3 linked regions of the Homo sapiens genome follow. The protein of the gene in region 1 interacts with the protein of each later gene in a pairwise test. Each region holds a gene or a part of one and is shown in the gene's direction. Other genes may lie near its edges.

Region 1 (3,655 bases):
GTGGGGGCCCCCACTGGACTGGGGGAGTTTTTCCTGTTTTGCAGAGAGCTATGTATCTTTTTGTTTTTTTAAATTTTTAATTTGCTAAATAAAAGGGACAATGCACAGCATCGAGCACACAGCTGCTGGGAAGCTGTCCTGTCCTCACCCTCTCCTGTCTCCCGCAGGCGTATGTGGGCTCTGCAGTCATGACCGATGAGACATCCGTGGTTTCCTCACCTCCACCATACACGGCCTATGCTGCACCGGCCCCTGAGGTAGGGAGAACCCTGAGCCTCCAGGTGAGGGAAGTTTGGGGTCTCTGCTGCTGTCCTGCTTTGTTTTGTTTTTTTAAATGAAATTAGAAATGTACTCTAAACCTTTTCTTCTTAAAACAGATGATTTCTTATCAACGTTTGTTTTCATGAAATGAAGCAACTATTTTATATAGTTCAGCACATTATAATGTGCTGTATTAATGTGTAACACGTTTTTAAGATAGATCTAAAAATGCATCATGTTAATGATAGTTGCCTTGGGTAATGAGATTTTGATGATCTGTAGTTTATATGGAATGAATTATTTGAATTCTCCTTATAGTCAGAAAAAAATGCTATATTTTAGGGAAAATAACCTTAAAAAATCATGTCAAATACATTGGGATGTCCTCTTGTTGGGGTGCTGACTGAGCTAGTGGAACGTATGTAAGTCTGTTGTGTGGAACACGCAGCTTTTAAAAAAATTGAATTTTGAAATAATTATAGATTCACAAGAAGTTGCAAAGATAGCTTTGAGAGTCTCATGTGCTTTTTATGTGTTTTCCCCATTTGTTAATATTCGATCAAATTAAACCCAGGAATTTGGAATTGGTGTGGTATTTAAGAGTAATCCTGTGTCATTTTCTCATACGTGTAGATTGTGTAGCTACCACCTCAATCAAGATAAAGAATTCTTCACAAAATCTTCCTGCTGTGACACCCTTTAATAGTCATGCCATCCCTCTGCTTCCCTAAACCCTGTCAATCACTGAACTGTTCTCCAGCTCTATAGTTTTATCATTTCAACAATGTCATATAAATGAAATCATATAGCACGTGGTCTTGGGAGTTTAACGTTTTTCACTCAGTATTTGCCCTTGAGATCTGTCCAAGTTGCTCTTTGTCAATAATCCTTTTTATTGCTGAGTGGTTTTTTTTTTTTTTTTGGGATGGAGTCTTGCTCTATCGCCCAGGCTGGAGTGCAGTGGCTCGATCTCGGCTCACTAAAAGCTCCGCCTCCTGGGTTCTCGGCATTCTCCTGCCTCAGCCTCCCGAGTAGCTGGGACTACAGGCGCCCGCCACCACGCCCGGCTAATTTTTTGTATTTTTAGTAGAGACGGGGTTTCACTGTGTTAGCCAGGATGGTCTCAATCTCCTGACCTCATGATCCGCCCACCTCGGCCTCCCAAAGTGCTGGGATTACAGGTGTCAGCCACTGCACCCGGCCCTTTTGAGATGGAGTTTCGCTTTTGTTGCCTATACTGGAGTGCAGTGGCACGATCTCGGCTCACCACAACCTCCACCTCCCGGGTTCAAGCGGTTCTCCTGCCTCAGCTTCCCAAAGAGCTAGGATTACAGGCATGAGCTGATTTATTGGCTTTTCCTTTTCTCGGTTGTGCTTTTGCTGTCAGGTTAAAACTTAACATGACAAACCTAGCCCAAGTTTCCTAAGATTTTCTCCTACATTATTTTCTGAAAGTTTTATAGTGAGGTTTTATAATTATTCTGTATTAATTTTGAATTAATTTTTTATAAGATAGATGTCTTTTTCAGGGCTCTGTTGAGTGTATCTCTTTCTGAGGTCTGTGGTCTGCTCCATTGTTCTGTATTGTTACCTTCCTTTGATCCCACACAGTCTTAATTATTGCAGCTATTATAAAAAGTCTTGGAACTGGGTGGACTGATCAACACCCTCTTTGTTCCTTTTTGGAAATGTTTTAGCTATTCTGGTTCCATTAGCTTTCCATATACATTAGAATAAATTTGTTTATATCTACAATGAAATCTTGCAAGGCTTTTGCAGGAATTGCCTTAAACCTGTGTCATATTTATTTGGAGAGTAATGACATCTTTATTGAATGTTGAATCTTCCAGTTATAAACATGGACTGCATGTGTATTTAGATCCTCTTTGATTTTTTTCATCAGCATTTTGAGGTTTTCAGTATAAAAATCCCATACATGTTTTGTTAGATTTATAAGTGTTTCAGTTTTTTTAGTGATTGCATATGGTATTACATTTTTAGTTTTAGTTTCCTTTGTTTACTGCCAGTATAGAGAAATAGAATTGATTTTTGTAGGTTGATCTTGCAGCTTGTAAACTTTCTCTTTTTTTTTTGAGACAGAGTGTCTCTCTTATTGCCCAGGCTGGAGTGCAGTGGCGCGATCTTGGCTGACTGCACCCTCCGCCTCCTGGGTTCAAGCGATTCTCCTGCCTCAGCCTCCTGAGTAGCCGGGATTACAGGCACGTGCCACCACACTAATTTTTTGTATTTTTAGTAGAGATGGGGTTTCACCATGATGGCCAGGCTAGTTTCAAACTCCTGACCACAGGTGATCCACCTGCCTTGGCCTTCAAAGTGCTGGGATTACAGGCATGAGCCATGGTGCCTGGTCGGCGCCTGTAAACTTTCTAAGCTCACTTACTCTATTTCCTTTTTCTGTAGATTCTTTGGGATATACTACATAGGCAATCATGTCATCTACAAATAGGAATCTGTTTTCTTTGTAACCTTTATGCCTTCTGTTTCCTTACCTTGCCTTGTTGCCTTGGTTAGACCTTCAAATATTATGTAGAATAGCAGTAGTGAGAGAAGACATCCTTGCCTTGTTCCTGATTTTAGGGGGGATGTATTCAGTGTTTTTTTTTGAGATGGAGTCTCGCTCTGTCACCCAGGCTCTGGAGTGCAGTGGCGAGATCTCGGCTCACTGCAAGCTCCGCCTCCCGGGTTCACACCATTCTGCCTCAGCCTCTCTAGTAGTTGTGACTACAGGCACCTGCCACCATGCCCGGCTAATTTTTTTATTTTTTTTATTTTTAGTAGAGACGGGGTTTCACCATGTTAGCCAGGATGGTCTCGATCTCCTGACCTTGTGATCCACCCACCTTGGCCTACCAGAGTGCTAGGAATACAGGCGTGAGCCACCGCGCCCGGCCAGTGTATTCAGTTTTAAGTATGCATTCATTTATTATGAATGTACTGTTTAATTCAGTATTTAATTAGTACTGAATTCAGTATTTAGTTTTACATATGCATATATTTAGTATTTAATGCATTCATTAAGTATGCTGTTAGCTGGAGGTTTTTTATATTTATTCTTTATCAGGTTTAGAAATTCCCTTTTTCTAGTTTCCAGGAGTGTTTATCATGACTGGTTGTCAGTTGCTTGCCTGCCTGTCTTCCTGCCTCCTCCCTCCCTCCCTCCCTCCCTCTCTCCTTTCCCCCGCCCGTCCCCTCTCCTCCTCTCCTCTCCTCTCTCCCCTGACCCCCTGAGAGATGAGGTCTCACTCTCTTGCCCAGGATGGAGTGCAGTGGTACTATCATTAGCTCACTTCAGCCTGGAATTCCTGGGCTGAGGCAATCCTCTTGCCTCAGCCTCCTGAGCCACCATGGCTGCAAAAAAATTTTTTTTTTTTGT
Region 2 (3,655 bases), on another chromosome or scaffold:
TCTCGAACTCCTGGGCTCAAGCTGTCTGCCCACCAGCTACCATGCCTGGCCTACCTCTGTTTCAAGCAAGTAATGTATAAACCTGTGCCATTTTTTAATGCAGTTGGGGTTGACTGGCCCTCCCATACTCAAAAAGATTCCTCCCAGCATTCAGATTTTGTGGCTTCTAGTACCACAGAAAATTCAGGGCACTTTGACAAATTCAGTTCAATTTCACTGATACTTGCTAAGCCTGTTTGTAATTAGGTCTCCTGCTGATTCATCACTGTCTCACTTGGCTACCAACAAGGAGTCTTAGGGGTCAAAGCAAGATTCAGACATAGAGCTTTATTTTGTCCAGACATATAAATCTGATGATCAATAAACCAATTAGTCTAAAAGGCATCCGTGATGCAAGGATCAAGCCTTTGAAGGTGGTAGGGCTTCTACAACTGAAAAAGATTTATGACAGTGAAAAAGGATTGCAGAAAGCGCTGAAAAGGTTTTATCTTGTTAATGTACATACTCTTTTTATTATCCCATTTGATTCTAAAATTATGGTTAGGAACCTAAGAGAAAGAATAGGACATCATAAACAAAGCCTCTTTTATAAGGCAGAGCTGGGACTTCGAGTGATCTAATTCATTTTTTCTTTCATGATATTGCCTTTAGTGAAATGGGGACAACAAAGGCCAGTATATTAAATGCCCAAGATTGGACTACAGAGACTTTAACTCAGCAAGAGCTCTGCCTAGGGCAGGGTGAGCCCTGAACTTTGGGCCTAGCTGTGTACTGATGTGCTGTACAATTTGGGGAAAATCTGTCCTTCTGGGCTCCAGGTTCTTTCTCGGAAAAGGAGGAGGTTGAATATAAACCTCTAATGTCCTTCAGGCACAACATTCCAAAGTCTTAATTCTGTGACCTTCAGACTTAGAATTCCTTTCAGGATAGCCAGGCCTCCAGTGAGTGAACTGAGTCTAAGTTCATTTGGGCAAAATCTGTGAGACTTTTTTGCAACAAGCCCAACAGCTTCTTTTACTTAGATGCATAAAGTAATAAACCCTGATTTTTGTGTCACCCAAGCTCAGGCTATAGCTCCAGGGGAATTTTCAGTGTTCCTCAAGAGTATTGACAGGACCACTAGTAAATTATGGAAAGTCCTCTGAAATGATTTCCTCATGAAAGTCTTCTGAAATACTCAGAGACCTAGAATGTCAGCACTAGAGAAGTTCTCTGATACTGTCTAGTCCAAATGAGGATATTCCCTGAGAGGAATTGACCTGACTTACTGACAGAACCTAGGATGAGGGCCCCCAGGCAGTTTCTCCAGCCTCATGAAGATCCTCCTGACAAATGGTAACCTTGAGAACCACTGTGGTTAGAGGAAGTAGCACTGAGTCTTAGATCCCCACAAACAGCTCTCTCTTTCAGCAACTACTCATTATCTCATCTGTGAAATGTTTACGTTGGTCTTAATGATCTCTGAGTCTTCTAGCTCTGCAGTTCTGCTTCTATCTCAGACTGTCTGGACAAACAAGCAAGGCCTTCTTCTGCAGCATCATCTCTTTGGCTGCCAAGGGTGTTTTGGCTACTGATTTGTATTCTGAGTATGTGTGTGTCTCATTTCATAACATGAAGAAAGGGAAACATTCTCAGACAAGGTTATTCTTAGATGTGGGAACCAAATTCTACTGCAGTCTCTTGGAGCTTTTTGATTTTCCTCAGAGGGATAGTCTCACCACTTTGTAATATGGCTGTCCTTGTGGCATACAGTGGGTAATCCAGCTTCCCCAGGGAAGAGAAAAATTCCAGAGCACATTCTCCAGGAGCATAAAGGAAAGTCATCAGCATCTTTGGCCTGTTAACTTTAAAGAATCATAAAATCATGGCATTTTAAGCCATAACATTTTAGAATCTTAGAATCCTGGAGTCTGTGTTCCAAGCTGGGACAGACCATAGTAGTCATAGATTAGCTTTAGTCTCTCAGACCAGGCTCTGCCTGCATACCCTTAGGACAGAAGCTTACTGTCCCTATAAAGTGAGAGAGAAAATAATAATAGCTGATCTTTATAAAGTGCTTCTAATATGTCAGGTACTGTTCTAAGTGCTTTTTACTTAACAGTTAATGTATTTATCACAATGAAGTAGGTACCATTACTGTTCCCATATCACACGCGAGACTGATGTATCCTATAGCTATTAAGTCTCAGAGCTGGGGGTTTGGACCCAGGCAGTCAGTCTGTCTCCAGACTGCTCATAACCATGGCTCTGTGCTACAGAGCTTTCAGAAACAGGCACCTTCTGATTCAGGGGTGTCCTACTCTCCTGCATAGAAAAGGGATGCTTTCAGCTCTGCTAGGTTTCTCTACACCTTGATATATTCCTTTAAATTAGGGGTCAGCAAACATTCCTGTAAAGGGCCAAATATTTAGGCTTTTAAAAAGGCCATATGCTCTCTGTCAGTGACTACCATTGTAGCAGGAAAGTAGCCTTAGTCAATATGTAAATGAATGGATGTGGATGTGTTACAATATAACTTTGTTTACCAAAACTAGCTTCAATTACAAAAAACATGGCTGAAATTTAATTGTTTTAAATGTTTATAGTATGAATAAAAGATTCTGTGGTAAAATTAATTTGGAAAATACAGTCTTGTACATACTCCCATCTTAGAGATTCACAGTTCACCTCCCCACCTTCTTTAAGAGACAGGGTCCTGCTCTGTCACCCAGGCTGAAGTACAGTGTTGTGATCATGGCTCACAACAGCCTTAGACTCCTGGGCTCAAGCCATCCTCATGCCTCAGCCTCCCAAGTAGCTGGGGACTACACCAGCCACCATGCCTGGCTAAGTTTTTTTCTTTTTTTAGAGATGTAGTCTGTCTGTGTTACCCAGGCTGGTGTTAAACTCCTGGTCTCAAGTGCTTCTCCTGCCTTGGCCTCCCAAAGTGCTGGGATTATAGGTGAGAGCCATCACATCCAGCCCATCCTATTGTTTTAAAAACTTCTCAGGGTCATGGAATAAAAACAAAATCTTAACTGTTTATCTCTATTTTACATATGGGACTATAGAACTCTTTTGTTTCCTTTTCTTTGGCAAAAACAACTATTAAGATCCCTTGGGATCTATAGTACGTTGTCCACATTTGGGAAATGTCTATCTCTGGTTTATCTATAAAACCCCTTTATTTTATAGATAAGTAAATTGTGTCTCCGTACACATCAGATGGTTCCTTCTAGACATCTGCAAAGCTAGTCTCCCTGTCTTCCCCCACAGTATCTGCTTCTCCTCCTATGACCACATTTCATCATTAGCTCCATAATCTAGAAACTTTGAGAAATCTGCTCTAGACTTCTCACTCAGCTCATAGTTGCACTTCCAGTTAGTTTCTACTTCTCTTTAACATGCTTCCCTCTCTTTCATATGTACTTTCCATTCTATCCTCATTGTTACTTATTTCCCAAGCATATTTGATCACAAAACTATGGAAAAAACTATGGATCTGCAGGTGAAAAAATAAATGACGTGAATCCAGGAACAGGCTGACTTTTGTGGCAGCTGTGCAGCAGCTCTCCTATCCTCCTGAGTCATCAGGGGCAGGGGGGTGCTAAGCCAAAGAGGTGTGATGTGGACTGAGAAAGATTTGTGACCATGTGGTAGTTTGCTTTTACTTGGG
Region 3 (3,655 bases), about 30 Mb from region 1:
AAAGTGCTGCAATCATTAGCATGAGCCATTGCACCCAGCCTAGTGCTTTTAGAAAACATACCATGTTTACTCTAAAGAAAACTAAGCTGAGTCAAAGGGAAACAGTTTTAGGGTTTTCAGATAATTTGTACTAGATTCTGATCCCATTTTATACCAGTTTTCAAGTTTGATTAGTTTTTAACATTACCTGACGTTTTGATGAATTAGCATTCTCATTTGTTTCTATTTTAGGATTATTTCTAGTACAGTTTTTCTCTCAACTAATGCCAAGTATTTAAATCTGCCTGTTGTTTTTTGATATTACAATCTGAACCAGTTTCCCCCCTTTACTATTACAATTAGTCATCCACCTAATTAGTTTCTTGTATTTCTCTCTGGGAAAGTTAAAAGCATTTTTTAAAAGAACACTGAGTTTACTGTTGATTGATAGCCAGTAAGTTTTGGTTAGTGAGACCGCTGTCAAGTCAGAAAGTGATAAGTAATCAGTAGCAAATAAGATCATTCTATCTAGCCCAAACTGTTTCTCACCAAGGTGTCTTAGAAGGGGATTCTGGTACATGGCAAGTGGCAGATGGAGTGAGTTGGGCTCTCCACGCTTACCCCCTCTTTCAACCAGATCACATCCATTTTTAATCTAATCTATATGCTGGGGGGGAGGATGTGCAATATAAGATTTTCCTTGAAATAAGAATTCTAATTTTGTTTTTTTAAGTTTGATAAACTAGAGTTTTAAAAGGTCAAATCCACTCATAAACTCATCTGAAGGGCCCAGTGCTTGAGCATGTGATGAGTGAGGGGAGTGGGGGACCACTTCCCCCTTGGCGCAAGGGGATCTTATAATGCTCTCTTCTAATTGCCTGCCTGTGTACCACAGTTTACTTCTGCTGTGATAGATTTAGTTGATTAAGTGTATTTTTAACACTTATTTTTAAGTTTACATGGAATGAGTACAGTCTGTGAAAAATGGCACCATTCAGGGACAAACAAAATTCATTCAGAATATAAATATTTTATCAGACTGATATCTGACACCCATCTATTTGGAAATGTCTAGCTAATTACATCAATTTTTCTTTCTTTTTTTTTGGGGAGTATCTCATAAACTTAGCCATTTTCCTTGGCATAAAAAGCAAATATATAAGCACTTACATAAATTACTTAATGTTATGTTTATGTTCTTAATAGCTCAGTTTAGCTGTTAACCTGCCTTCTTGGTAACAAAAGCTCTGCCTTTACTCTTATCCAGACAACTTGTTTACTTAACCCCCAGCCTTACTCGAGGGTCGCAAGGGAATCCTTGTCCAGGTATGATAGGAATATCCTGTTGCTCCTTGGGAACTGTCTTTGTTTGCTTTTGAAGTGGTAGGGAAATCTGAGTCTCAACACTTAATTATAGGTAGCTGTATAGCATAGGTAGTTGTAGCAGCACCCACATTTCCCAAACATGTATTTTCTAGAACAGTATCAGTGGAGAAGCTAGGAAGGAATCAGAGAAACTGAAATCATCTGTGGAGGGTTTTCCTAATTTTTTTTGGCATACTGTCCTTACCCCTGGAGCCATGGGAGAAAATGGGAGAATTAGTGTCCTTGGAGCCAAAGGAAGGGAATGGAGGAGTTTTGTATCTTCAAAAGCCTTATAGGTGATTTTGACAGGCAGCTTATTTTCCAATGTAAGATAAAATTTGTACCACAAATAGCTGTAAACTTCTAAGCAAGTAGGATAATTTTTCTAAACTAAACCCCCATATACCTCCAAGTACATCTTCAGATTCTTATGGCTCAGGGATCTCATTTAAAGTATAATGGTTCTATTGACGAAACAACAGTCATTTTATAGCCATCATTTTTTTTCTTTTACTTTTCACAATTTTGTGAATCATCCAAAGGGAAAAAACTTCTTATTTAATGATGGTCCTCAATTGAAGAAAATTTGTAGGGTAGGACTTTAAGAAAAACCGTCTTAAAATATAAACTTGAAAACTTAGGAACATCTAAGAATAAGTACTCAGAATTGTAAGTCCAATTTGAGAAACATTGAACTAAGGTGTTTAGTTTCATGATCACTGATATAGAATCCAACCCCAATTTGCTGGTGTGATTGCACACTAGATAATTTTTTTTTTTTTTTTTTTTTTGGAGTCTCACTCTGTCACCCAGGCTGGAGTGTAGTGGCGTGACCTCAGCTCACTGCAACCTCCGTCTCCCGGGGTCCAAGTGATTCTTCTGCCTCAGCCTCCCAAGTAGCTGAGATTACAGGCGTCTGCCACCACACCCAGCTAATTTTTGTGTTTTTAGTAGCGACAGGCTTTCACCATTTTAACCAGGCTGGTCTCGAATTCCTGACCTCAACTGATTCACCCTCCTTGGCCTCCCAAAGTGCTGGGATTACAGGCATGAGCCACTGTGCCCGGCCTAGATAAATCTTTTATTTGAGAATAAAAGATTTTCATGGCTTTTCATCCTGACAATAAGGAAGTTTTAAGTTTTTAAATTATAGATGGAATACCAGAATTTGAAGGAAACTTTGAGATTACCTAATACAAGCCCCTTAATTCATAGATCTCTAAACTGAGGATCAGAAAGATTGACACAAGGTCACTCAATAAATGGGGCATTTATCTCGTTATCTTGGCATTTGAAAGCTAGGCTATATGAAAAATTAGAGATACTTATAAATTTCATTAATTCATTCATTCATCAGATATTTATTGAGCTATTATTAGATATTGTTCTAGAATTTAGACCCTAGTGATCTTGAAATGAATAGGGCAAAGTCCCTGCCTTCTTGATTTCCCTTTAGTGGGAGAGAAATGCAGTAAACAAGTAAACAAAAATTTCAGGTCTTTGTAAGCATTATACAAGTAATACAGCAGGTTAAGGGAAGAAAGATTTTGTTTAAGGTAGTGTAGTGTGACTATTTTAGGTATATTGTTGTTAGGGAAGACATCTATCTGTAAGGAAGAGAGGAAGGTAAGTTATGCAAAGATGAGAATAGCCTTCTAGGTAGAAGGACAGCAAATGCAAAGGCCTTGGTGTTGGAGTACTCCTTAAGTTATATTAATACAAATATAGGAGCATTCTAATTGGAGTTCATTTGAATTAATAAAGTTAAATCCATTAAGTCGAAATGTTTTTTTTTTTTTGAAGTTTTTTTTCTCTAGACAATGAAGGGGGTATCCTCAAGGCAGAAAAAGAATTACTTTTTCTTTTATTTTTTAGATGTTGCTAAATTTGCATAAGAAGAGTTGGATGGAAGGTTTGACACTTCAGGACTACAGTGAACATTGTAAACACAATGAATCAGTGGTAAAAGAGATGTTGGAATTAGCCAAGAATTACAATAAGGTAAAAGTTACTTCTGCCATTTCTTCTTTATAATCTTTGGAATATGTATGATTAGATGCCAAGCATTGTGTAAGTAATTAAAAATAGAGAATCCTGTTTTGTAAATAAAATAGTAAATATTTGCTTTGCAGTTCATCTGGTCTGCAACTACTCACCCTTGCCTTTGTAATGCAAAGGCAGCCATACACAATATGTAAAAGAATGAATGTGTTTGGGATCTATTAAAACAAGCAGCTAGCCAGATTTGTCCCATGGGCTATAGTTTGCCAACTCCTGTTGTAGACCATGTAATACAGTTGCACATTTGAAA

Evidence for each region.
Region 2: the proteins of PLEKHB2 (region 1) and FAM168A interact in binary tests that used the Homo sapiens proteins (3 or more experiments, as listed by UniProt).
Region 3: the proteins of PLEKHB2 (region 1) and PSMD14 interact in a two-hybrid assay, tested with the Homo sapiens proteins (one large-scale study listed by IntAct).

Annotation. Positions count from the first base shown.
Region 1 is NC_000002.12:131,132,735-131,136,389, forward strand, and holds part of PLEKHB2 (pleckstrin homology domain-containing family B member 2), read left to right. Parts: intron 1-167; coding exon 168-257; coding exon of another isoform or gene 258-281; intron 282-3,655. UniProt on the Homo sapiens protein: Involved in retrograde transport of recycling endosomes.
Region 2 is NC_000011.10:73,413,092-73,416,746, reverse strand, and holds part of FAM168A (protein FAM168A), read left to right. Parts: intron 1-3,655.
Region 3 is NC_000002.12:161,391,859-161,395,513, forward strand, and holds part of PSMD14 (26S proteasome non-ATPase regulatory subunit 14), read left to right. Parts: intron 1-3,219; coding exon 3,220-3,345; intron 3,346-3,655. UniProt on the Homo sapiens protein: Component of the 26S proteasome, a multiprotein complex involved in the ATP-dependent degradation of ubiquitinated proteins.